Homo sapiens: one gene and its partners. Changing the gene in region 1 together with any one later gene gives a genetic interaction. Each region holds a gene or a part of one and is shown on either strand. Other genes may lie near its edges. The genes, in order: TNFRSF1A, HNRNPA2B1, NOL3 and CFLAR.

Evidence for each region.
Region 2: changes in TNFRSF1A (region 1) and HNRNPA2B1 together harm fitness more than expected from each alone (negative genetic interaction), as found in Homo sapiens cells (one study listed by BioGRID).
Region 3: of TNFRSF1A (region 1) and NOL3, changing one suppresses a phenotype caused by changing the other (phenotypic suppression), as found in Homo sapiens cells (one study listed by BioGRID).
Region 4: of TNFRSF1A (region 1) and CFLAR, changing one suppresses a phenotype caused by changing the other (phenotypic suppression), as found in Homo sapiens cells (one study listed by BioGRID).

Annotation. Positions count from the first base shown.
Region 1 is NC_000012.12:6,339,076-6,346,511, reverse strand, and holds the start of TNFRSF1A (tumor necrosis factor receptor superfamily member 1A isoform 1 precursor), read left to right. Parts: upstream 1-4,435; 5' UTR 4,436-4,697; coding exon 4,698-4,736; intron 4,737-7,436.
Region 2 is NC_000007.14:26,190,711-26,197,746, forward strand, and holds part of HNRNPA2B1 (heterogeneous nuclear ribonucleoproteins A2/B1), read right to left. Parts: intron 7,023-7,036; coding exon 6,912-7,022; intron 6,752-6,911; coding exon 6,605-6,751; intron 6,308-6,604; coding exon 6,097-6,307; intron 5,949-6,096; coding exon 5,847-5,948; intron 5,772-5,846; coding exon 5,691-5,771; intron 5,200-5,690; coding exon 5,137-5,199; intron 2,985-5,136; coding exon 2,865-2,984; intron 2,664-2,864; coding exon 2,541-2,663; intron 1,868-2,540; coding exon 1,806-1,867; 3' UTR 1,785-1,805; intron 1,629-1,784; 3' UTR 1-1,628. UniProt on the Homo sapiens protein: Heterogeneous nuclear ribonucleoprotein (hnRNP) that associates with nascent pre-mRNAs, packaging them into hnRNP particles.
Region 3 is NC_000016.10:67,173,502-67,176,237, reverse strand, and holds the end of NOL3 (nucleolar protein 3), read right to left. Parts: exon of another isoform or gene 2,370-2,736; coding exon of another isoform or gene 2,192-2,369; intron 2,077-2,191; coding exon of another isoform or gene 2,069-2,076; coding exon 1,774-2,068; intron 1,618-1,773; coding exon 1,294-1,617; coding exon of another isoform or gene 1,292-1,293; intron 1,192-1,291; coding exon 1,184-1,191; coding exon of another isoform or gene 1,141-1,183; 3' UTR 501-1,140; downstream 1-500.
Region 4 is NC_000002.12:201,154,143-201,161,178, reverse strand, and holds part of CFLAR (CASP8 and FADD-like apoptosis regulator), read right to left. Parts: exon of another isoform or gene 6,772-7,036; intron 3,425-6,771; exon of another isoform or gene 3,387-3,424; intron 748-3,386; coding exon 237-747; intron 1-236. UniProt on the Homo sapiens protein: Apoptosis regulator protein which may function as a crucial link between cell survival and cell death pathways in mammalian cells. Acts as an inhibitor of TNFRSF6 mediated apoptosis.

The DNA of each region.
Region 1 (7,436 bases):
TTTAGTCACCATCATCACTAACCTCCCCATCCCCCACTCCACTTGCTGAGTCCCACTTACCACCTGGCGGCAATGAACCCTCATCTGCCTGCCTCCCATCAGCTGTCTGGTGGTGGTGGAGGATGATGAGGCTCAGGCCAGTTTCTCCTGGAAATGCAAAGCCTTATATGGTCTTATTGGTACATGATTGCAGAGAGGGGCACAGGGAATCCTCCCAGCTTTAGTAAAGGAGAGACTGAGGTCCAGGGAGGGGCTGAAGGATGTGCGAGTGGAACTCCAGCTCTCCGATCCTTGTTTCTCCCCCACTCCAGCATAAGACCTGGAATCCAGAAGTGACCCTTTCTCACCATCTTTGGGGATTCTGTCCCTGCCACCTTAGTCTTATTCATCTTAATTGCAGTCTCCCTGTTCTGAGGAGCCAAAGGAGGAAGAGACTTTCGGGGAAAGAGGAGAAGGAGCTGGTGACAGGGGTAGGAAGGTAGACAGGGTCATGACCTGAAACGGTGTGACGACTGCTGACTTCCCTTTCCTGGACTTGAGCTGATGAAGGGGAAATGGTGTTGCAGTCTCCTCTGTCAGAGCCCTCAGGTGCAGACGGCACTTGTCTGCCCCCTCAGCCTCAGCCTTGGCCCACCTGGTCCCCAGTGCCCTCTCCTCTGGCTGGGGCAGGAGGACCTGCCGGACATAGCCAGATGTATTACGGATGACTGCAGTCAGCTCCCCCAGGCTCCTGCTTCTCTTGCCTCCTGCTTTTTTCCCCAGAGCTGTCTCCTTATCTCCATTCACTTGTCTATGGGTTACTCCTGGACCCTGGGGTTAGGAGTTGGAATCAGGCTGTTAGCGATAAAAGGGTTCAAGTTGACTCATTTTCCTTATCAGGCTTAGTAGTTGAAGTGACTTGCTGAGCTTCATAATTCTTAGAGAACCTGCCATGAACCCAGCTCCCTTTCTATGACTCACCCTGCCACCCTGTGACACATAGAGTCTGAATGGCAGGTCTGGGGCTAGAACCCACGTCATCTGGACTTGGAGTCCAGTGACCCTTTGGGTTAAGCATGTGTGTGTGTGTGTGTGTGCCATGATGCGGGAGGAAGGTCCCTGCTCTCTGTAGCTGTTTTCTTCATCCTTTGCTCTACAAGCCCTAACAGCCGATTCTGTCATCCCTAGTCTGCCCCTCTCCTGTTTCTCCATCTCCTCTGACCATGATTTTTTTCTGTCCCTGGAGGGATGATGGTCTCATTCTCACCTCCTCCACGAAACGTGTTAGCTTTTCATATTCCTAGATCCACTCACTTCTCATCATCTTTTTTTTTAAACAAAATTTTATTGAAAAATGTAATATGACGTGTCAAAGTTGTAAAGTTATTGAGTAAATAAGCATGTATCCTAAATATTGAAAAATATTCTCCTTTTGTACCAGGCTATGTGTCACGGCTTTGGCGCTTTGCACAGACTATTAGAAATACCTTATAACATTAAAAATAGGACATTGAGGCCGGGCGTGGTGGCTCATGCCTGTAATCCCAGCACTTTGGGAGGCCAGGGTGGGTGGATCACCTGAAGTCAGGAGTTTGAGACCAGCCTGGCTAACACGGTGAAACCCCGTCTCTACTAAATACAAAAAATTAGCCGGGCATGATGGCACATGCCTATAATCCTAGCTACTCGGGAGGCTGAGGCAGGAGAATTGCTTGAATCCGGGAGTCAGAGGTTGCAGTGAGCCGAGATTGTGCCACTGCACTTCAGCCTGGGCAACAAGAGTGAAACTCTATCAAAAAAAAAAATAGGACATTGAAGTTGGTTTCTTTTTTTGATACAGAGTCTCGCTCTGTCACCCAGGCTGGAGTGCACTGGCAGGATCTCGGCTCACTGCAACCTCTGCCTCCTGGGTTCAAGCAATTCTCCTGCCTCAGCCTCCTGAGTAGCTGGGATTACAGGCACGCGCCACCACGCCTGGCTAATTTTGTATATTTAGTAGAGACAGGGTTTCACCATGTTGGTCAGGTTGGTCTCGAACTCCTGACCTTGTGATCCGCCCACCTCAGCCTCCCAAAGTGCTGGGATTGCAGGCGTGAGCCACCGCACTCTGCTTTTTTTTTTTTTTTTTGCCGCCCTCTCACATACCATACTCCCCTGTATCACTTATCCTTCTGAAGTTGTTATTAATCATTAATACAACTAGCTGGGCATAGTGGTGTGCGATGGTAGTCTTAGCCACTCGGAAGGCTGATGTGGGAGGCTAGCTTGAGGCCAGTAGTTCTAGGTTAGGTGAGCTATGATTGCACCATTGCACTTTAGCCTGGGTGAGAGCAAGCTCCTGTTTCAAAAAAAAAATTAATTGCTACCACTTACTAAATGCTTAATATATGGCAAACACTTGCCAAACACTTTATATGCTTGATTTAAGCATCAAGCTAGCTCTGTGAAGGGTACCAGCAGGTTTCCCATTTTTTAGATGAGCAGACCGAGGTTCTTCTCGCTGCTTCATACTGGAAACTTGCACTTGATTCTGAGGCTCCTGCTTCTTCAAGAACACTGCTTTGGGTTCGCTTCTCCTGTCCCTGGGGTCTCCCTTTGTGATGGTGGTGAGCTGCTTCCTTTCTGAATCCAGCTTCAACCCTACAGTTCTCCAGAAGCTGGACGATGGGGTGGAGTAAAGTCAGCTCCCCCCGCAGTGAGGGACACTGAAGCTCCATTCTCATCTGCGGATCACAGAGGGGAAGCCAGGAAGAGCCAGGGGACGGTGGACTTGGGGCTGGGAGGTCATCTCAGAGGGATAAGGGGTGAGGAGCTCTGGTTTCAAGTTCCAAAGCCCTAGGACCTCCCTCTTCTCTGTCTGCCTGCATTTCTAGCAGCCTCAGCAGCTGCAGGCCCTTGGGCGGGGCTGGATGTAGGGAAGGTCATTGTACCAAGAAGATAGTTGGGTAAATGTGGTACCTTTGTTGTAGGATTCTCTTGGGAGATGTCTGCATCAATGAGGATGGCATAAAGTAACCAGAGTCAGGATGTGGGGTCTGACTCAGTGACAGAAAAAGTGGCAGTGTGTCTCTCATAGCCAAAGGGGCCCTTGGACCGGCAGTCGGGAGTCTGGGGTTCTCTGTTGGCTCTGCCTCCTGGCACATTGGGTTTCTGGACCTCAGTTTTCTCCTCTATAAAACCGGGCAGTTGGGTGGGCACGGTGGCTCACACCTGTAATCCTAGCACTTTAGGAGGCTGAGGTGGGCAGATCATTTGGGCCCAGGAGTTCAAGACCTGCCTGTGTAACATGGTGAGACCCTGTCTCTACAAAAAATACAAAAATTACCCAGGCGTGGTGGTATGCACCTATAGTCCCAGCTGCTTGGGAGGCTGAGGTGGGAGGATTACTTGAACCTGGGAGGTCGAGGCTGCAGTGAGCTGCGATGGTACCACTGCACTCCAGCCTGGGAAACGGAGCGGACCCTCAAAACAAAAACAAAAATGAAAAACAAGCAAACGAAGAAATAAAAAAACCTAGGGGGTTGTAGTCGATGATCTGTAAGGTGAGTTATAATTGATGTATTGGAATATTTAGGAAAAGGGCACTGGGAATATGCTAGGAACACCTGATGGAGGTATCTTTATTTCCACGGCAGCTTCGTGGATACGTCTCATTGATTCTCATGGCATCACTTTCCCCATGTAGGTGGGCAGACATTGTTACCCCTGTTTAATAAACAAGGAACCAACAGAGGCTTAGGAGAGGAGTTGCCTGATGTCGCATGATTGGTGGCAGAGCCAGGATCAACAGTGGGGCAGGGTGGGGGGACCTGGCCAGGCAGAGACTGGATGAGACCTGGGGTGAGGAATGGCAGGCACCCAGTCAGGGCAGAAAACGAGGGTTGGGACTTACTTTGAGTTTTGGATTGGATCAGTAAATTCCCAAGAAAGAGGGAGACTAGGAGGCTAGTGAAGAACTCTGGAGTAAAGGGGAGGATTACTAAGGGACATGGAGTACCTATCATGTGTCGGACGCTTATCTATATCTCTCCCATCTGAACAAATCCTTACAGGAACCCCAGGAGACAGGTTATCTCCACTCTGCAAATTGGAAAACAGATCCAGACAGTTTCAGTTATGTGTCTGAGAAGTTCATTTATGTGTCCAAGACACATTCTTAGCTAAAAAGCTAAGCATTCTGAATTGGAACCCAGAGAATTTGACTCCCAGACTCTGGATCTTTTCACTGCTGTGATCCATCTGGGAAAGGCTAGTGATGTGGGCAAGGGGCTTATTGCCCCTTGGTGTTTGGTTGGGAGTGGTCGGATTGGTGGGTTGGGGGCACAAGGCAGCCAGATCTGGGACTCCTGTGCTTGTGACTGGACTACAAAGAGTTAAAGAACGTTGGGCCTCCTCCTCCCGCCTCCTGTGGCCTCCTCCTCCAGCTCTTCCTGTCCCGCTGTTGCAACACTGCCTCACTCTTCCCCTCCCACCTTCTCTCCCCTCCTCTCTGCTTTAATTTTCTCAGAATTCTCTGGACTGAGGCTCCAGTTCTGGCCTTTGGGGTTCAAGATCACTGGGACCAGGCCGTGATCTCTATGCCCGAGTCTCAACCCTCAACTGTCACCCCAAGGCACTTGGGACGTCCTGGACAGACCGAGTCCCGGGAAGCCCCAGCACTGCCGCTGCCACACTGCCCTGAGCCCAAATGGGGGAGTGAGAGGCCATAGCTGTCTGGCATGGGCCTCTCCACCGTGCCTGACCTGCTGCTGCCACTGGTGAGACCAGGGACAAAGGGAAGAGTGGGCTGGTGGGCGAGGCACCTTCCGGCTGGCGTGGGCCCTCTCCGGGAGGGGGCCGAGCCTCTCCTGCCCGGGCCTGGTCCTGGCGCCAGCCTCAGGCCTGCAGGTCCTAACCTCAGCCACTGCCAGTGTGGGGTTCCCCATTCATCCGCCTTTTGGAGTAGGGGCTGCGCTGAGGCAGGGGAATGGGAGAAGTTTGAAAGGGAGAGAGTAAAAGGAAGCCCTGGCCCCTGACAGCGGTGGAAGTTTGTGGGCGGCCAAGGGAATGTGGGCAGGAGATAGGCCCAGGGTGGGGCAGATTTGGCGGGGAAAAGAAGGGAGTGGGAGTAGGAAGATTAGTGCTCGGGGAGTCCAGACGGTTCTGAATTCTGTCCCTCCGGTCAGCTGGCTGGCCTGGAGGGTGTTGGGCCGTGGGGAGGCGAGGCTGCCTGTGGAACTTGGTGGAGCACACCCTGTAGGGCAGGATTTTGGCGGCTGGTGAAGTGGGGGAGTGAGTTGAGGAGTGGGGATGGGCTGGTGTGGTGGGTTTGGGATGCTCATGGTGGGAGGTATTTGAGAATGGGCTGGGACACTGGATGGGGCAGGGCAACCCAGTGGACAGTGTCCCCAGTGCCCTGGCCAAGCCCCGGCCTCTCACCTGGGGACATTCTTTACCCTTTTGCCTGCTGCTAGGCAGGTAGCCGCTGTGGGACTGAGCCTTCCCAGGGAGCTAGTCCTACCCCCACCTGGTCAGTGTCCCTGGGCCTGTCCTCCAGCTTCCCCTCCCCGCTGCTTCTCACAGACCTAAACAACAATCCCTTGGTTTCTTATTCTACAGTTCAGTTTGGGGAAGTTGGTAGAAAGTTGTTTTCGTCACTGGAAAATGTCCCTTTCTCTGGCCTCAGCCTTGTTTCAATGTATCCTTGATCGTCCTCCACGTCTTGGTCCGGGAATCATCCTGTTCAGATGTCCTGGGCCCATCTAGTCAGGCAGATTTTCCCTGCCCTGCCCGGCCTCTGAAGGCTGCGCCTACCTCCCCTCTCTTTAGTGCCTTATACTCTTCCTCTCCTACCATTCCTTTCTTCCAGCAATCTCCCCAGACTCTCCTCAGACTTCTCAGAGCCTCTTTTTTTGAAATCTTTTCTCGCTAATCCTCCTTCCCCTCCTCTCTGCTCCGCTCTGGTCCCGGCCCCAGGTCCCCAGGCAGCACGTCTCTGGTCAGGGTCTCACTCTTCTTCTTCTGCCTCCTCCTGCCTCCTTAGTCCCACCCGCTCTTCCCTTCTTCCCACTGTCCTTCCCCCACGGTCTCCCCACCAGCCAGCTGCCCTGACATCCTGCTTCTGTTTTCTGTTTGGGGGCGGCCCCTGGCTCCCTCACATACCTCCTGCATGAACAAGAGCAGCTTATATAACCTAACCTTCCATGCCTTCGTTTCTTTATCTCCAAAATGGGTGTCACAGTCTTGACCTCATACTGTTGTTTTGAAGATTGAATAGACTGATACATGTTAAGTGTTCATTTGATTTATTAAGTGTGCGCTCTGGGCTAGACACTGTGATAGGTGCTGGGATTACAGCAGAGAACAAAATCCCTGCCCACAGCTTTGACAGTCCATCAGGGGAATAGGTTGTAGCAAATAGAAAGCACTCAATAAAGTTTTTATATTGCTGTGACTAGTAGTAATTACTGGGTGGCTACCTGTGTTGGGAAAACAGAGGGTAAAGGTAGCCTGAACAGGTAAAGGGAAGTGCCTGCGTCCTGGGGTGCTTCAGCCCAGGTGGGATTATGTCTCCTAAGGGACAGAAGCCTGGCCTGGAGCTGGAGGAAAGGGAAAACAAAGGGAATGCAACATCCTTCTGAATTTCTCACCATTCAGTGGGCAATGCAGAGCTCACAGTGTGTGTGTGTGTGTGTGTGTGTGTGTGTGTGTGAGAGAGAGAGAGAGAGAGAGAGAGAAGTGGGGTAGGGGAGTAGGGAAGAATGATACAGGAGAGACTGTGGCAAAGCAAACAGGATTTTGCTGCTCTCAAAGAGCTTACAGCCTAGTAACCAAGATGGCTTACAGTGAAAAATGATTTCAGAGCAATCCCGAGGAAAATATCCACAAATGCATTGTGATGTGGTGTCCTGGAGCACCAGTTGGGAGGAGGAGGAACTGGGGAAGGAGGTGAGCCTTAGTCCACTGCCTTTCCTTGCTTAGCAGGTCTCAGCTCCTGCGCTCAGCTCCAGAAAATTCAGGAGCTTCCCCACGCTGCTTCAGTGTCCTTCACTGTGCAACTGCAGCACTCCCTGTATAGATCTCAGTGCCTACAACTGACTGTCTTTGACTCAAGTGAGAGCTCTTGAGAGCACGAGCTGTGTATTATCCACCTCAGCATCCCTAGCACCCATACGGGACCTGTCACATTAACTGTGCCCCTTAACTATTTGCTGAAGGAATTAAGGAACAAGAGATGTGTCAGATGGGATGGCGGAGGGAAAGCCTCATAGAAAAGTGGATGTGGAGCTGACATCTGAAGTCACTGCCTGTCAGGGTAGCTATAAAGGAGGGAAGCAGAGTTGGATACTGATGTGAGGAAGAGGAGAGGAATGGAGAGATGGGATTTTGTGTTGATGGGCAGGGTGGCAGGAAGCCAGACACCTTGGTTCGGGAGTGGAAAAACCATGTTGAGAAACACTAAGAAATGTGAATGGGAG
Region 2 (7,036 bases), on another chromosome or scaffold:
CCACCTATTTAGTACTGGATACATACCAGGCTTCATAATGCAGACAAGACACTTCACTCAAGTATGAACTACTATCTGAAAATAGATTCAACCATTTTTGCCCTACCTTCTTTCAGTCTCATCCTGATAAGCATGTACAGTTACAACCATAAATACAACAAATGTCTTTAATAAAAACCCCTAGTTCACTCAAAATGTTTGATCCAAGAAATGTGAATACACAAGGGTGTAACGATGGGAAATCTCATGATTTATTGAACTTGCAGCCTAACTTTTACCTACCATTTTACTACCAACACCACTGAAGGAACCAAGAAAAGCTTTATTAATGATCACTTGGCTTGCCTCAGCTGTTGAAATGAAGCACTTTACAGTCTTTGTGGCAGCAGAATATACTTGTCCATGGTTCATATCAATGCTAAAATTCCGGCAGGGAAAAAAATGATATGTTAAGCACCCAAATCTTCACATGGAGGGGGAGGGGGTGGGAAAAGAAGGAAAAAAAGGGAAAAACAACCAAAATAATTTAAGTAAATGACAGATTGGAAAACAGGGTTTATAAAAATTATTCTCTTGAGTTTATAAATTGTTAAACTCAATTTATAGCTATGTTAAACTACGTAAGAACCACTATACTGAAAGACCATTTAAGAGTATTAGTTTATCTTTTAGGGAGGAAAATTAAGAAAGGAAAAGTAAATAAGATCTTACCTAAAGAAGTTTAACTGAAGCTTAGAACTATTTTGCTCTACACCCTCAGCTTTCGTTGGCATCCTTATAAACTACTGTAGTTAAAGTTTTGTAGAAACAGCACAGTTTTTTAAGACTGGCTGAACTTAGTAGCCGTCAAGAGTTCTCTTGTACTAGACCTGTGTCCCTGAAGAGTACCTCGCTGGGGTTATTTCCTTTCCTTGCATTGAAGAAGCAGCATCTAAAAGATCTAAAAAGGTGTTTCTCCTTGCAGAGATATCCCTTAAGTTATCTACATAATTTAATCCTGATGAATTGCAGACAACACACTTACATCTGACCAGCATTTATCTTATACAAATATAACAACAGCTTTGCAACGGACCTTAATTATACTACCCACTCCTTAACTTATTTAAAATAAAAAGTCTATAATTACACAATTTCCTTTAGAATTATTTTATTAAATCATAAATGTACAACAGCTTCTTAACTCTACACACGCACTTAAATTTTTTTAAAGGAAAAACGTTATGTCTTATTACACCATGATCCTGGCTAATAGCTTTTCAAAACTTTGAGAAAAATCTTAAAAAAGGTTTCACATGTCACCTGAAACTTACAAATTTAACATTATCAAAGAAGGAATGCTTCTACACTCTTACAAAGACCACTAGAAAGAAACAACAATTAAAAAGCTAAGAAACTGTCTCAAAGGCATTTTTTTTTACAATCCTTCCTCCACAGTAAGGTAATGTTATTAAATAATCCAATCCATTCACAAAATGGCTCTCTGCATCTGCTCTGGTGTCTTCTGCCATATCACTGCATATTTATGCATGACTGAGATAAGAGTTTCCTTAACATTGTTATTTCGATAACCTGAAGCTGTTCTGTTACCTCTGGGCTCTCATCCTCTCCTATTTATACAGTGAAGCCTGTTTCAACAGAAGTAAAGAGTAAAAAAAAAATAGGTTATGAAATTATCCATCTAACCAGATTTTAAGGAAAGATAACATGATCCTAAAAAGCTTTTACTCCTGCAGCTATGTCTCCCAAGATAATAATAATTGTAAAACTCAAAAGCTACTTACCCATGGCAAATAGGAAGAAGCTCAGTATCGGCTCCTCCCACCATAACCCCCACTTCCTCCACTGCCTCCTGGACCATAGTTTCCTATAATTGTTGGAACAGCAAGAGAAAACAAACTTACTTTGATTTCCCATGATCAGCCTAACACTACAGTTGATTCTATTTTATATCCATCCAGTCTTTTAAACAAGCAGATCCTAATCCTTTGCAGCCAGTTAGCAGAATTACTCAGGAGATAAATTACTCGGGTTCATAGACATTTTTATTTCGTGGCTGACCCTATTCTTTTAAATAAAGGGTCCTTTCACCCTCTCATCCTCATTTGGACTGAGTAAGGGATTTTTTTAAAAGTACATCAAGCCCAAGACAAAGCTAGTTTACTCCTAGCTAAAAACCTCAAAAATAAGCTAAGCAATGGTTTGAATCATGGTTTAAGGATTTAACTTCAAAGACCCTCATTCCAATGTATACCACTTGCAATGTGGGTTGCAACTGTATTTAGCTGTTTATGAGTCCCCACCAGAAATTAAACTACTGAACACCCCCACCTCCAACATCCCTAATCCCAATTTGATGTCATAACTGCTTGCTGAGTACTTCTGTGGAGATTTATGCAAAATTTCTTTATTTTCACTAAGACCGTACATGGAGCACTGCCCACAGTACAAACTACTTAGTATGTTATCTTCCCTTTAAGTCACAAAAGGCTAATCCTTTAATCACAAAAATCTGAATAACCTCAATTTTTATAAATTACCTCCACCATATGGTCCCCCCATGTTCCTGCTACCACCAAAGTTTCCACTCTTCATTGGACCGTAGTTAGAAGGTTGCTGGTTATAATTTCCAAAATCATTGTAATTTCCACTTCCATAATTTCCTATTAAAAAATTGGAATACTCAGAACAATACAAACATTAAACCAAGGACTTAGGACAAAGCTCCCATAAAAACAAATAAAAGCAAACACTTATCCACAAATTTTATGGGCATCTAGTGACAAACATGGAAACAAAAGATCAAGTGTTACAAAGACATTAATTCCAAATTCCCACATAAAGGTTGCAGGTGAATTTATTACCTCCTCCATAGTTGTCATAACCACCTCCGTAGCCCCCACCCTGGTTGCCATATCCAGGTCCTCCACCACCATATCCTCCTCTTCCTCCTCCATAACCGGGGCTACCTCCAAAATTGCCACCTATTATAAAATAAGCCTTTAAGTAATCACTTAATATTTTCAATACCATTTTGAACTGTCTCCTCACATCCATTTCCAGCTTTCCAAGTTTCCATGTGAAATATTTAATGAAATTCCTCTAAAATAGCTTCAAGGACTGAATAACTATCCTTGGTAAACATTTGGTGGCTGGGGTTACTCAGCCAAATGGATAACACCATGTGCACACAGTTAAATACCTGTAATTCCACAGCTTTCCCTCAAAACTAAAAATCTTAAGTATCTTGAAATACTTCATGTATATTGTGGGTAAGGACTGTGAGGCTAGACTAGTAGTGTGGGCTAGAGGGAAAGTAAAAGAGCACTTCCTCCTACTGGCCCAAAAGATAAAGTTTCTATTATGTCTCTCTACGAATTACATATCTTAAAACAATGTTCTCGGTTGGGCACAGTGGCTCATGCCTGTAATCCCAGCACTTTGGGAAGGCCGAGGCGGACGGATCACGAGGTCAAGAGATTGAGACCACCCTGGCTAACACGGTGAAACCCCATCTCTACTAAAAATACAAAACATTAGCCGGACATGGTGGCAGCAACCTGTAGTACTAGCTACTCTGGAGGCTGAGGCAGGAGAATGGCGTGAACCCGGGAGGCAGAGGTTGCAGTGAGCTGAGATCACACCACTGCACTCCAGCCTGGGCGACAGAGAGAGACTCCCTCTCAAAAAACGAAACAATGTTCTTGGCTGGGCGCAGCAGCTCACACCTGTAATCCCAGCAGTACGGGAAGTTGAGGCGGGTGGATTGCTTGAGCCCAGGAATTCAAGACCAGCCAGGGCAACACAGCAAAACCCCCACACCTCTACAAAAAAACACAAAATTAGCCGGTCATGGTGGCACACCCCGTAGTTCCAGCTACCCAGGAGGCTGAGGTGGGAGGATGGCTTGAGACTAAGATTGCAGTAAGCCAAGATCACACCACTGCACTCCAGTCTGAGCAACAAAGCCAGACCCCATTTCAAAGAAAAAAAACAGACCCAACACTCCACACAGTATGTTCTTTACTGTAAATAGAAGTGCGGACATAAACAAAAATTTACACTTTCACATACTGCAAAACAAAAATAAAAAAAAAAAAAAGGCTGGGCATGGTTGCTCACGCCTGTAACCCCAGCGTTTTTGGGAGGCCAAGGTGGGCAGTTCACGAGGTCAGGAGTTCAAGACCAGCCTGACCAACATGGGGAAACCCCGTCTCTACTAAAAATACTAAAATTAGCTGGGCGTGGTGGTGCACGCCGGTAATCCCAGCTACTCAGGAGGCTGAGGCAGGAGAATCACTTGGACCGGGAAGGCAGAGATTGCAGTGAGCAGAGACGCGCCACTACACTCCAGCCTGGGTGACAGAGCAAGGCTCCGTCTCAAAAAAAAAAAAAAAAAAGAAACCATATTAAAAAAAAAAAAAAAGCTTGTGGGCTGAGTCTCTAACTTGTAGTTAAATACAAGAACTCAGCTTCCTCTAAAATTTTAATTATAAAAAGTAGAACAGTGAGATACACTATTTAGTCATGCCTATTGAGTGGCAACACCAGAAATCAAGTCTATTACCAGCTCAGTTTTAAATGTCCCTTGTTACAAAATCTGTCAGTGTGTATCAGCCTTTTCTGTACGCCAATGATATATCACACTTCATGTTTAATGGTAGTTCACAACCTTATCTGCAGCCAGGAGCACACTAAACATTTTGGAACATTTCCGTAGGTTACGCTTTTTGAAAGTTATCCTGGGATGCTTCCCATCTAGTTACGGGTTTAGACATATTTCATATTTTTTCCTACATATACCACCCCCTTAGGTTTTACTCTGTTAAATCCAGTATTCTGTACTTTTCCAGAGAAGCACGTACAAAGATATATCTAGATCCAATCATTTTGCTTGAGAAAAGATGAGATACTCTGATGGTTATCTTTACATTTTCATTTAAAATGGCACTCTATTCCTTAGGCTATAACAGCTAAGATGGCAAAACTACTTAGAAATAACTGGACCACTATCACCCAAGCCATTTATAGACACTAATATAAAATGTTTAAAAACTCAAAATATAAATGAAGTAAATATACGATATAGTTAAGTATTAGTCACATAAACAAACCAAAACGTAGAGGAAAACTGACCTCCAGGTCCTCCTCCATACCCATTATAGCCATCCCCAAATCCACGTCCACTGCCATATCCATCTGTTAGGGGCCAAAAAAAGATTACGTTTACTATAAACTGTTCAGCATTATTGCTAATATTCATTTTCAGTTCTCTTACTACCTCAGCACAATAATTAAGAACCGCAGAAAAGGACACACCAGTGCTACCAGTTTACCCACAAAACATGAAAGCATATAATTAAATCTACCGCCTAAATTTTGGACTCTTAACAAGTCTCAATCTTAGAGATTCCATCCTATTTATACGTAAGAATGACACTTGATGGGGGTCAAAGCTTTTCGGATGACACTTCATGTTACATTATTAATCCAGATAAATACAACTGTTATTAATACAACTCTATTAACTTCTTGTCTGGCCAAATCACAAGAGCTTGCCAGGATACAATCTATTTGAAGTCTTAGGAAAATTGACTTAGGTTGGATTTCTTGATTCTACTAATGAAAACCTAATCATATTTAAAATAAAAGCACACTCATCCTTTAAACACGTAGAACTTGAAACTCACCAGATCCTCCTCTAAAGTTACTTCCTGGTCCTGGTCCGAAATTTCCACCGCCACCACGTGAATCCCCAAAGCCAAAGTTGCCTACAATAAATGCCCCAGTTAGAAGCAAGCCCTTATATATGAACAAAAATAAAGAAGAAACAGAATTAAAATTACCTCCTCTTCCACTCCTAGAACTCTGAACTTCCTGCATTTCTTGTCTAGACAAAGCCTTTCTTACTTCTGCATTATGACCATTGATGGTATGGTATTTCTGCACTGGAATGAAAAATTCAGACTCCTTTTAAATTAAATCAACAATATTAAGCAGCTTCAAAAGTTTACCTTTCAATAAAGTTACAGATGTTAACATACACAAAATTGAATACACTGGAAAAAAACAGTACATTTGTGGTTAGACACTTACATACGATTTTATCCACAGGATCATGGTCATCAAAAGTAACAAAGCCAAAGCCTCTTTTCTTTCCAGACTGCCTATCAGTAATTATCTCAATGGTATCAATTTTTCCATATTCCTCAAAGTAATCTCTAAGGTGATGTTCCTCAGTATCTTCTTTAATTCCGCCAACAAACAGCTTCTTCACAGTTACATGAGCCCCTGGTTTTCCAGATTCCTAAAATAGTGGTGGGGTAAAAGTCATCCAAACAGAAAAAAACACAAGCATAATTCAAAGCACCCAACCGTAGTACCATACTTCGCTTGTATCCACCTTAAAACTACCAGATATAAAATAGCTTTTAGGGACCTAGCTTTTGAAAAATAAGCTAGCTTAAGAAAATGGTCCAGAAACCCAACACACCTTTAATAAGAGAAAAAATCTTGAGTTAAAACTAAATTCAGAAATAGTTTCTGATTTTCAGCAGGGCAGCGTTCTTCATGTTAATGCACAAGACAGTCATTGTTTGCTTACCTCTCTTGCTACAGCACGTTTTGGCTCAACTACTCTCCCATCAATTGAATGAGGTCTTGCAGCCATGGCAGCATCAACCTCAGCCATGGATGAAAAAGTTACAAAACCAAATCCTCTTGATCTTTTGCTTGCAGGATCCCTCATTACCTTTCAAACCAAAGGGTAAACTTTAGCATTTAATCTCATTATAGCTTATAAGTGAAGTCATAATAGAATTTTTTACTATGCTGATAGTTATTTCCTCCATGATTCACTTAACATACAGCTAAAAGACTAATATCCAGTAACAATTCAGTAATTTACATACCACACAGTCTGTAAGCTTTCCCCATTGTTCGTAGTAGTTCCTCAAACTTTCTTCTGTGGTTTCAAAGCTTAAGCCACCAATAAAGAGCTTACGGAACTGTTCCTTTTCTCTCTGCAAAGGAAAAT
Region 3 (2,736 bases), on another chromosome or scaffold:
TATGGTCTACTTCCTGTGGCTGGGAGCAGCAGCTCCTGAAGGTTCCGTGGGGGTGCGGGGGGTTGGACAGGACACTCCTTCTTGGAAGGCACCAATTTTCCCAGCCCCACTCCCATTACACACACACACACACACACACACACACACACACACACACACACACACACACACACACACACACACTGATTCAGGCCTTGAGAGTCAAGCCCAAGAGCTCCCTTGGCCCTGTTCCCCACTCCCTCCACTGGCCTCTGCTGTTCCTGTCTTTGCTCACACCCTCACAGCTGCTCTCTGGCAGAGGTTGGCATAGCCTAGGAGCAGCTGCAATTGCACCTGAGGGACAGGCCCTAGAGTTTGGTGGCCCAAGTCCTGAACCCCTCTTAGACCAGGTGAGGTGCAGAGGTGGTTGCTGCTTCCAGTTTCCCTTCAGACTTAGCTGTGTGAACCCCACTCCTATCCTTTGGCCTTAGTTTTCCCATCTGTAAAACTCAGAAACGCAGTTGGAAAGTCCTTATTCATTTAGTAAGCGAATATATTATAATATGTATAGAGCGCCTTTTGTGTAAGTCACTGGTCAGAATCCTCACTGAGCTCCCAGTCCAGAGAGAAGCCAGACAATTAAAACAGTAATGACAATGATGTGTGTGGCCTTTGTCTACTCAAGGTCCCTTTCTGCTCCCCTCTTCTAGTCTCACTTCCCAAGGCTGTGAGCTCTAAGCCCTCCCTATGTGGAGAGAAGTCACCCTCCCCTTGCTCCATGTTCAGCTCAGGAACTTGCGTGGGGTTGAGCTGGTACCTACATATGCTGCCAAGTGGCTCACCAGGGGAAATGGGTTGTGTATGCGGGCAGGAGGGTCAGGTCCTTGTCCCACTAGGGGGCTAGGTTTGGGATCTCCAGGGTGCAGCCTGGACTCCTAAGGGCAGATTAGGGCTGAGGACTGGATGATGCTCGTGGTGGGCTTGGGCCTGCCCAGGTCCCTGGGACTCAGAGGTACCCACCCTAAGTTCCTGGGCAAACAGCCAGAATCGTGGAGAGAGCCCAGGTCCCGTCCGACCCTCCGGAGTTTATTCACTTCCAGCGGTACTGGGCTGGACCGAGCCTTGGTGGCATCCGATTCAGCTCCAGCAGCATCCCAGGTCCTATCCAGCATGGGCGGGGCACCGCCTGTCAGAGCTCTGGCCTTCAGGAATCTAGAGATGACGGGAACAGTGGTCAAAGAGGTGGGGTCCGGCATCCGCTTCCCAGGCCATGCCCTCCCGCCAAGCCGGCTCAGGGTTTGGGCGGACTCACACCTTCGGACTCGTCCCTTTCCTCGAAGTCGGGCTCGGGCTCTGGGTCCGGTTCTGGCTCCAGTTCCGGCTCTGGTTCTGCTTCAGCCTCGGGTTCCAGCTCTGGCTCTGGCTCCGGCTCCGGTTCAGCCTCTTTAGAGGCCTCAGCTTCCAGCTCTGGCTCTGGCTCCTCCGGGGTCCCGGATTGCACCGCCTCGGAGCCCTCAGGGCCCCCGGCCTCGTCAGGGTCTGAAGCTCTGGGCAACCCGGGGCATGTGGTCCCCGAGCCGGGTGCCTCCGGCGTCCAGTGGCCTGGGCATGGAGGGTCATAGCTGCGGTCCCGGTAGCCTGGGGCGGAAGTGGGAGTGACTGAGGCTCAATTTACCCCTGTGCGGTTTCACACTCGCCTACTTCTAGCGGAGACGACAACCCTGCCCTCCCCGGGCCTTTTGTCTGCCCCAGCCCCGTCCCTGCTCTGCCCTAGGCCCCGCCCCGCGCGCTCACCCGGACCCACGTGCTGCCAGTCCCAAGCGGGGTCCGGCGCGCCCGCGGTACGCTGGGCACAGCGTAGCAGCTCCTGGCAGGCGGCCTCGCCCTTGCCCTGCACCAGCAGCAGTAGGCGGCGCACCCTGCGCTCGGCATCAGGCAGTGCATCCAATGCCTCGTACTCTGGCCCGGTGAGCACGCCCCGCGCCAGCAGCGCGTCCAACAGCAGTCCCGAGTCCGCCTGCAGCGTCTCGACCAGGCGTTTCCGCTCGCGGTCGATAGTCTCTGACGGCCGCTCCTGCGCGTTGCCCATTGTCGGGGCTGCATGGGGAAAGGGGAGAGAAGTAATGGGGGGTTGCCCTCCCCGCTGCCCTCGCCGCCTCTGACCACTCCCTCAATGCCCCCAGTGAACACCCAGGCTGGGGTTTAAGTTCACCTCGATCCCAGCCGCCGGACGGCTCCGCAAGCACAGGACCTGGAGGCCAACACGGGGAACTCGGTGTCCTCCTGCCTCTCCAGACGCTCTGTCCTGTCTCCTCCTCAGGCTCCTCCTTCTGTCCCCAAGCGTCAGCCGTGGCTCTCCTCTCCTCCCCTGCCTTTCCCAGGACTGGCATCTACTCTCTGAATGCCCTCCCCAACCAGGACGTCCTGAGCTCCACCCCCGGCAAATCCGAGGCGAGTTCAGACCCCGTTTATCCAAACTAAGGTCTTTCTCTCAAATCTGCTTCCCCACCTAACCAGGCAGAAAAACCTAGGATTGATGCTGATACTCCACACCCAGCTTGCAGACAAGTCCTTTCCAGTCTGACTGCTGAATATTTCTCTCACCATCCTCACCACTTACTAAGTCCAGCCTTCTGCCTCCTGCTTTGGCCCTGCAGAACCCAGGATCAGAGCTCCCTGCTTCCATACTCTATCCTCCAGTCCCCTCTGAACCCAGAGCACAAAGTGCTGAGAGCCTCCCTGCCCCTCTCCCCTTAC
Region 4 (7,036 bases), on another chromosome or scaffold:
GCTGAAAATTTCTTAATTTTAAAGAAAAGTATTCAAACTACAAACTAACTAACTACAAAGTATTTATAAATCATGCCGGGTCTATACTGTAGTCCTAGGGCAAGCCCAATGCAGGAGGGAAAATCTCTTTTCCTCCCGGAAGAGATGGGCAGCAAATGTGGCACAGTGGTAATTCCCATCCTGGTGGCACGAAAATAAGCAGGTGGTCCGGAACTGACCACCTCCTGGGGGCTCACCTTTCTTGTCTCAGTTTCTGGGAGAGGCACTGCAGGTACAGGGATGGTGAGCTGTGAGACTGCTCCAGCAGGGACATGTCCGCAGTACACAGGCTCCAGAAGAAGTCAGCTTCTCGGTGAACTGTGCACAGCCCTCGCTTCTGAGCCTTGAATTCCACATTCTTCATCGCTGGCCCATCCACCTCCAAGAGGCTGCTGTCCTCCAGCTGGCCCTCTGACACCACATAGTTCTGAATAAAAAACATCTTTGGCTTCCCTGCTAGATAAGGGCATGAATCTCCCATGAACATCCTCCTGATGTGATGCAGGGGGAGCCCTGAGTGAGTCTGATCCACACCATACACACTCTGGGAGCCTCCTCGGCTCACCAGGACACACACAAAGCTGTCGTAGTCTCGGTGCTCGGGCATACAGGCAAATTGGCCAAGAATCTGGGATATACCATGCATACTGAGATGCAAGAATTTCTGGACTTCATAGCCCAGGGAAGTGAAGGTGTCTCGAAGAAGCTCTGGGGAAAACAAAAAACAAACACGGAAAACAACACTGGAGTGAGGAGAGCTCAAGAGGACTGGGTAGGAATCCTAGACATGGTCTAATCTCCATTATGAAAAGCTTCTGCTTTTGTGTCATATTTTGATGTGCCTGAGTCCTGGGCAGTTGGAACAAGAACCACATGAATCATGAAAGATGTGATTTTAGGTCCCTAAATATGGTCTATACCCTGCTATACCACTGTTCCTGCCTGATGCCAGCCACAGGCACAGACTGAGCCCACTCTAGTCCAATCAAACCAAGGGGGGACAAAACCTTTTTTTCTTCAACAATCTTCTTATTGAAGTCCAGACCTCACAATCTTTCTCTCTTCTGAGTGGCTCACTCTGGGAGAAGCCCACCACCACATCATGAAAGTACTCAAGCAGTCCCTCAGAGAGGCCCACATGAAGAACAGGCTTCCTGCCAACAGCTAGCACCAACTTCTCAGTCATGTGAGTGACCACCATAGAAGTGGAGCCTCCAATCCCAATCAAGCATTCAGATGACCCAGCTGACAACTGACCACAACTTCACTAGACTCTGGGCCAGAACAGCCCAGCTAAGCTGCTCCTAAATTCCTCACCCACAGGTGAGGATATAATTAAATTAGTAACTGTGAAGATATAATTAAATTAGTACTGTTGTTTTTAGCCACTAAATTTTGGAGTGATTTGTATACATTTTTAGGTAAATAATTCACCAGGTAAGTCCTTTGACCTTTCCTATCGGTAAAAGGAAAAGGCTTCTTACTTTTCTCCTTTGCTTGGCCCACAACTAAGGATTAAACAATGAATTATTGGCTGGGCGCAGTGGCTCACCTGTAATCCCAGCACTTTGGGAGGCTGAGGCGGGCAGATTACCTGAGGTCAGGAGTTCAAGACCAGCCTAGCCAACATGGCGAAACCCTGTCTCTACTAAAAATACAAAAATTAGTCAGGTGTAGTGGCACGCACCTGTAGTCCCAGCTACTCAGGAGGCTGAGGCAGGAGAATCGCTTGAACCCAGGAGGTGGAGGTTGCAGTGAGCCAACATTGTGACACTGCACTCCAGCCTGGGCAACAGAGTGAGACTCTGTCTCAAAAAAAAAAATTAATTATTATATCATGTAAGAATGAAGAGCTACAAAGGAGGTGCTGATATTCCTAAGTCTATAATCAATAAGCATCATTAACAAGGAAATAGGAGACATGATTCACAGGTTGCAAATAACCCATTAAATAGTGAGGGCAACCAGCCCCAGTGGCTCACATCTGTAATCCTAGCACTTTGGGAGGCCGAGACGGGCAGATCACCTGAGGTCAGGAGTTCGAGACCAGTCTGGCCAATATGGTGAAACCCCGTCTCTACTAAAAATACAAAAATTAGCCAGGCGTGGTGGTGCTCACCTGTAATCCCAGCTACTAGGGAGGCTGAGACAGGAGAATTGCTTGAACCCGGGAGGCAGAGGTTGCAGTGAGCCAAGATTGCGCCACTGCACTCCAGCCTGGGCAACAGAGCAGAACTCCGTCTCAAATTCAAATAATAATAATAATAATAATAATAATAATAATAATGATGAGGGCAAATGCCGTTACAGGATCTCTGGGTAGCTGTTATCAGGACTGTAATTTTGCACAGCCTTTTTGAAGAGCAATTTGGGAGTATCATTAAATTTTAAATGTGTATACCCTTTATAAAAAAAAGAAAACTCTGTGTGGTAGAAGAGGCCTGGACGCACTGTCCCCTAGCCATCTCCTCTGAGGGTGCAGGCTTGTTTCGATACCCAGTGCTGAATCCAGGCTGAACAAGGAGAGAACCTGGACTAGGACTCCAGTTCCATCACTGCTATTCTATTCCAAAGGACTCACACGTCTCTAATCATGGAGTATTTGCTCCTCCAGGGGGCAGAAGCAAACAGGGAAACACCAGACTCAAAGCTCTTTTGTGTACTTATCTCAAGATTGGTTCACTTCCCTCAAAACCTCTCTTCACTGATAAATGTCCTTCCTTATCAAACAAAGTCCTTGAAAGAAAACTTCACCACATTCTCCCTGCCCATGCTGATATGTAAGGCTTGGACAGAACAAATGCTGTACTGTGCCTTCCAGCTCTTTCCTTTATTTGTGCTCCCTGGAGGTTCTGGCTGGGGAAGCCCCTGTCACATGACTGTGAGCAGACAGCTGTGTGGTGCAGGGCAAAAGAGGAACCAGCCTTGGAATCACAAGATGTGGGTTTAAGTCCTAGTTCCTCCATCTCCTCCTACTAGGGTCTGAATCTTGCATGGTCTTGGAAGAGACTGAGCTATAACAGCAGAGAAGCTAGGAAGGAAATGGGAATCTGAGGTCTGGGGCAGAAAATCCTTACCTAAAAGAACAGAAGAAAAATGGCTAAAGCTGGAGGTGAAGCCAAAAACCATGCAGGTCCCAAGTGCCAATAAGAATAGCAGGTCTGAGCCTCAGACAAGACACAGCATTGCTTAAATATCCTGTGGCAAGGGAGTCACTCCACAGGCCCAGCCTGAAGACATTACCGCTGACATTTCCCATTAACGTCACAATTTTCCTCTATGAGGTGGTGAGGTGGAGTGGGAAGGGCTGTTAGCTGGCACTTGCAACTTTATTGCGCCAGCAAGAACATGCATACAGCCCAGTCTAACGTACAGGATCAAAAAGGTAATGACAGTGTGACTTTGAGTCAGTTTGAGTCAGCCCCAGTTTATTCATCTATAAAACAAGATTAAAACTAATGCTTGGCCAGGTGCAGTGGCTCACACCTACAATCCCAGCACTTTGGGAGGCTGAGGTGGGAGGATGGCTTGAGCTCAGGAGTTTGAGACCACCCTGGGCATCACAGGGAACCCCGTCTCTACAAAAAATAAAAAAACTAGCCAGGCATGGTAGTACAAGCCTGTAGTCATCACAGCTACTCAGGAGGCTGAGGCAGGAGGATCTCTTGAGCAGGAGGTTCTTCAAAAGGTGACTGTGAGGGCAGGGTACAGTGGCTCATACCTGTAATCCCAGCACTTTGGGAGGCCAAGGCGGGTGGATTGCTTGAGCTGCAGAGTTTGAGACCAGCCTGGGCAACATGGCGAAACCCCATCTCTACCAAAAATACAAAAATTGGCTGGGCATGGTGGCACGCATCTGTGGTCCCAGCTACTTGGGAGGCTAAGGAAGGAGGATCACTCGAGCCCAGGAAGTGGAGGAGCCAAGATCGCTCCACTGCACTCCAGCCTGGGTGAAAGAGTGAGACTCTGTCTCAGAAAAAAGGTGACCGTGAGGATCCAATGAGATTTCTGTAAAGATGCTTTGCAAACTGTGTTTATTCAAATATAAGATATTGACTTTAAAGGAAATAAAGGCAGCCATTTCAAAGTACAAATCACCAACCTTATGGTGTTGCACATCTCTCATGGAATCTCTCTCTTAGGACCTGGAGGGAGGTCTCTATATTCTAAACTAAAATGGGCTCAGAGCAGACAGAGTCCATATCCTATGTAGGTAGGACAGTAACTGTTTTGTCCTTGCACATAAATAGAGGAAGAAAAACTTGGGGGCTGGGTTTGGAAAATAAAATTTCAACAAACTACAGAAGACCCACTTCTCCTTCTAGAACCCACCCTGGAAATCCCACACTCAACCCAGTCTGATCTCCGTAAATTTCAACTGTTCTTTAGAACTTCTGGAAATGATGTGGGGGGGTGGGGAGGGGAAGGGCAGGGGTTCTTCTGGCCTTGCAGTTAGTACAGGGCTGTTCATTCAAGGCTAGGGTCAGCACTACTCACAGGTTTGAGGACTTCACAGATAAACCAAAAAAACCAAAATACAGTAAAATGTCATGACTTCATTAATTTAGAATTTGTTTTGATCTAAATGAGGATACATTTATCTTGACAATTTCTATGAAAAGGGCTTCATTAAATAAATGTATAAAATAAACAAGAATGAGGGAATGCTTCACCAGTTAATTTACAATCACATATTGAGTACCTTTAATAAGCCCAGTGTTAACTGCTATAGAGCACATGGGTAAAACATAAGATGGGCAAAACATTCTTAGTGAAAAAGGGAGTTCTGAGGTCAAACGTGTTTGGGAAATGCAAGGTGGACAAGGCTAAAATAGGTTTCTTCGCAGGAAGAATTCTCAGAGCCTTTAATAGGTCAATATGCATTGCAAATCTCTGAGGGGGAAGAGATTAGGCAGCGCTTCTCAAATTTACTTGACCGGAAAACTCTTGTTTTACAAAGTTCCCCTTATTGCCTACAGAAACACTTGGACAAGAGAATACATATCAAATATATGATGTACTTCAATCAAAGAGCTTATAATCTTGTTGGGGAAGCAAAGCTTATAAATACGCATAAAACAAAGATTACGTGGTGGCTCATGGCCATAATCCCAGTGCTTTGGGAGGCCAAGGCAGGAAGATCACTTGAAGCCAGGAGTTCAAGACCGCCCTGGGAAATACAGCAAAAGACCCTGTCTCTATAAAAAACAAAGTTAGCCAGACATGATAGCATGTGCCTGTAGTCCCAGCCACTCAGGAGGCTGAAGTGGGAGGATTGCTTCAGCCCAGAAGTTTGAGACCAGCCTGGGCAACATAGTGAGACCCTGTCTCTACAGAATATTTTAAAAATTAGATGGATGTGGTGGCGCCTGTGTGTAGTTCCAGCTACTTGGGAGGGTGAGGTGAGAGGATTGCTTGAGCCCGGGAGGTGAAGGCTGCAGTGAGCCATGATTGTACCCCTGTGCTCCATTCTGGGTGATAGAGCAAGACCCTGTCTCAAAAAAGAAAAGGAAAGTACAGAAAAATGTTCAAGCTTTTCAGAAAGAGCAGGATAGAAAAAAAAAATACTTCCTCTTGGCCAGGTGCGATGGCTCATCCCCGTGATCCCAGCACTTTGGGAGGCCGAGGCGGGCGGATCACCTGAGGTCAGGAGTTCAAGACTAGCCTGGCCAACATGGTGAAACCCCATCTCTACAAAAATACAAAAATTAGCCGGGCATGATGGCGGGTGCCTGTAATCCCAGCTACTCAGGAGGCTGAGGCGGAGAATCGCTTGAACCCGGGAGACAGAGGTTGCAGTGAGCCAAGATAACGCCATTGCACTCCAGTAGCCTGGGTGACAGAGCGAGACTCTGTCTCAAAAAAAAAAAAAACTTCCTCTTAAAATCTGCAAACATCGTCTTTTATTTTTATTCAAGGGCCTTAAAAACAACCAGAGCTTTAGGCCAAGCCGTAAAGCCCATCTGTCAGAGATGTGAGACGCTTGCTTCTATATTCCTAACAAGATAAAAGTCCAGTGCTTAAAGATGACCCACCAGGGCCTAGCACAGGTCCAGCTTTGCTGTCACTGACACAGATGACACAACACCAAAGACTTATTTTTCAATTCTACCAAACTGAGATAATTAGTTCCCAAATCCCTGAGCATTTACTTCTGCCTCAAGAAGAGGTTACTGAACTCCATAAGAATTCTTCTCAAGAAAGAACTACCAAAGAATAACCTTATTTCATGCACAACACAGCTCTGAGATCAGACTCCACCTCATTGCCTTAATATTTGCTTCACACAGGGCCAAGCATGGTGCTTTGCACATAGTAGGCCCTCAACGAACATTTACTGGACAAACAAAGAAATAAAGCTTTAAATACTTGGGGGACTTGCATGCTTTTTGGATAAAAGTCTGGTTTTTTGAGGAGAGAAGGGAAGATAGGTAGAAGAGAGTCTGCTAAACTCTAAAGATAAAAAGGAATGGCTTTTAGAAACACACTGACACTGGGAGAGCTTATTCCTTCATTCATTCACCCAACAATTATTTATTGAACACCTACATAGCAGGTATTCTTCCAGGTACTGGAGACCCATAGTAGGAGATAGATAAACTCCCTCACCTTCATGGAAATTATATTGAGGCAAAGTAGTTAAAAGCATAGGTTTTGGAGTCCAGCTTTTGAATCCCAGCTCAATCAGTACTAGAGAAGGTAGGAGTGTAGTTCACTGCTCAGCTTCCTCACCTTGAAAATGGAGAGAATAAGCCAGGCATGATGGCTGACGCCTGTAATCGTAGCACTTTGGGAGGCTGAGGTGGGCAGATCACAAGGTCAGGAGATCGAGACCAGCCTGGCCGACATGGTGAAACCTTGTCTCTACTAAAAATACAAAATTAGCTGGGCATGGTGGCACATGCCTGTAATCCCAGTTACTCAGGAGGCTGAGGCAGGAGAATCGCTTGAACCTGGGAGGTGGAGATTGCGGTGAGCTGAGATTGCGCCATTGCAC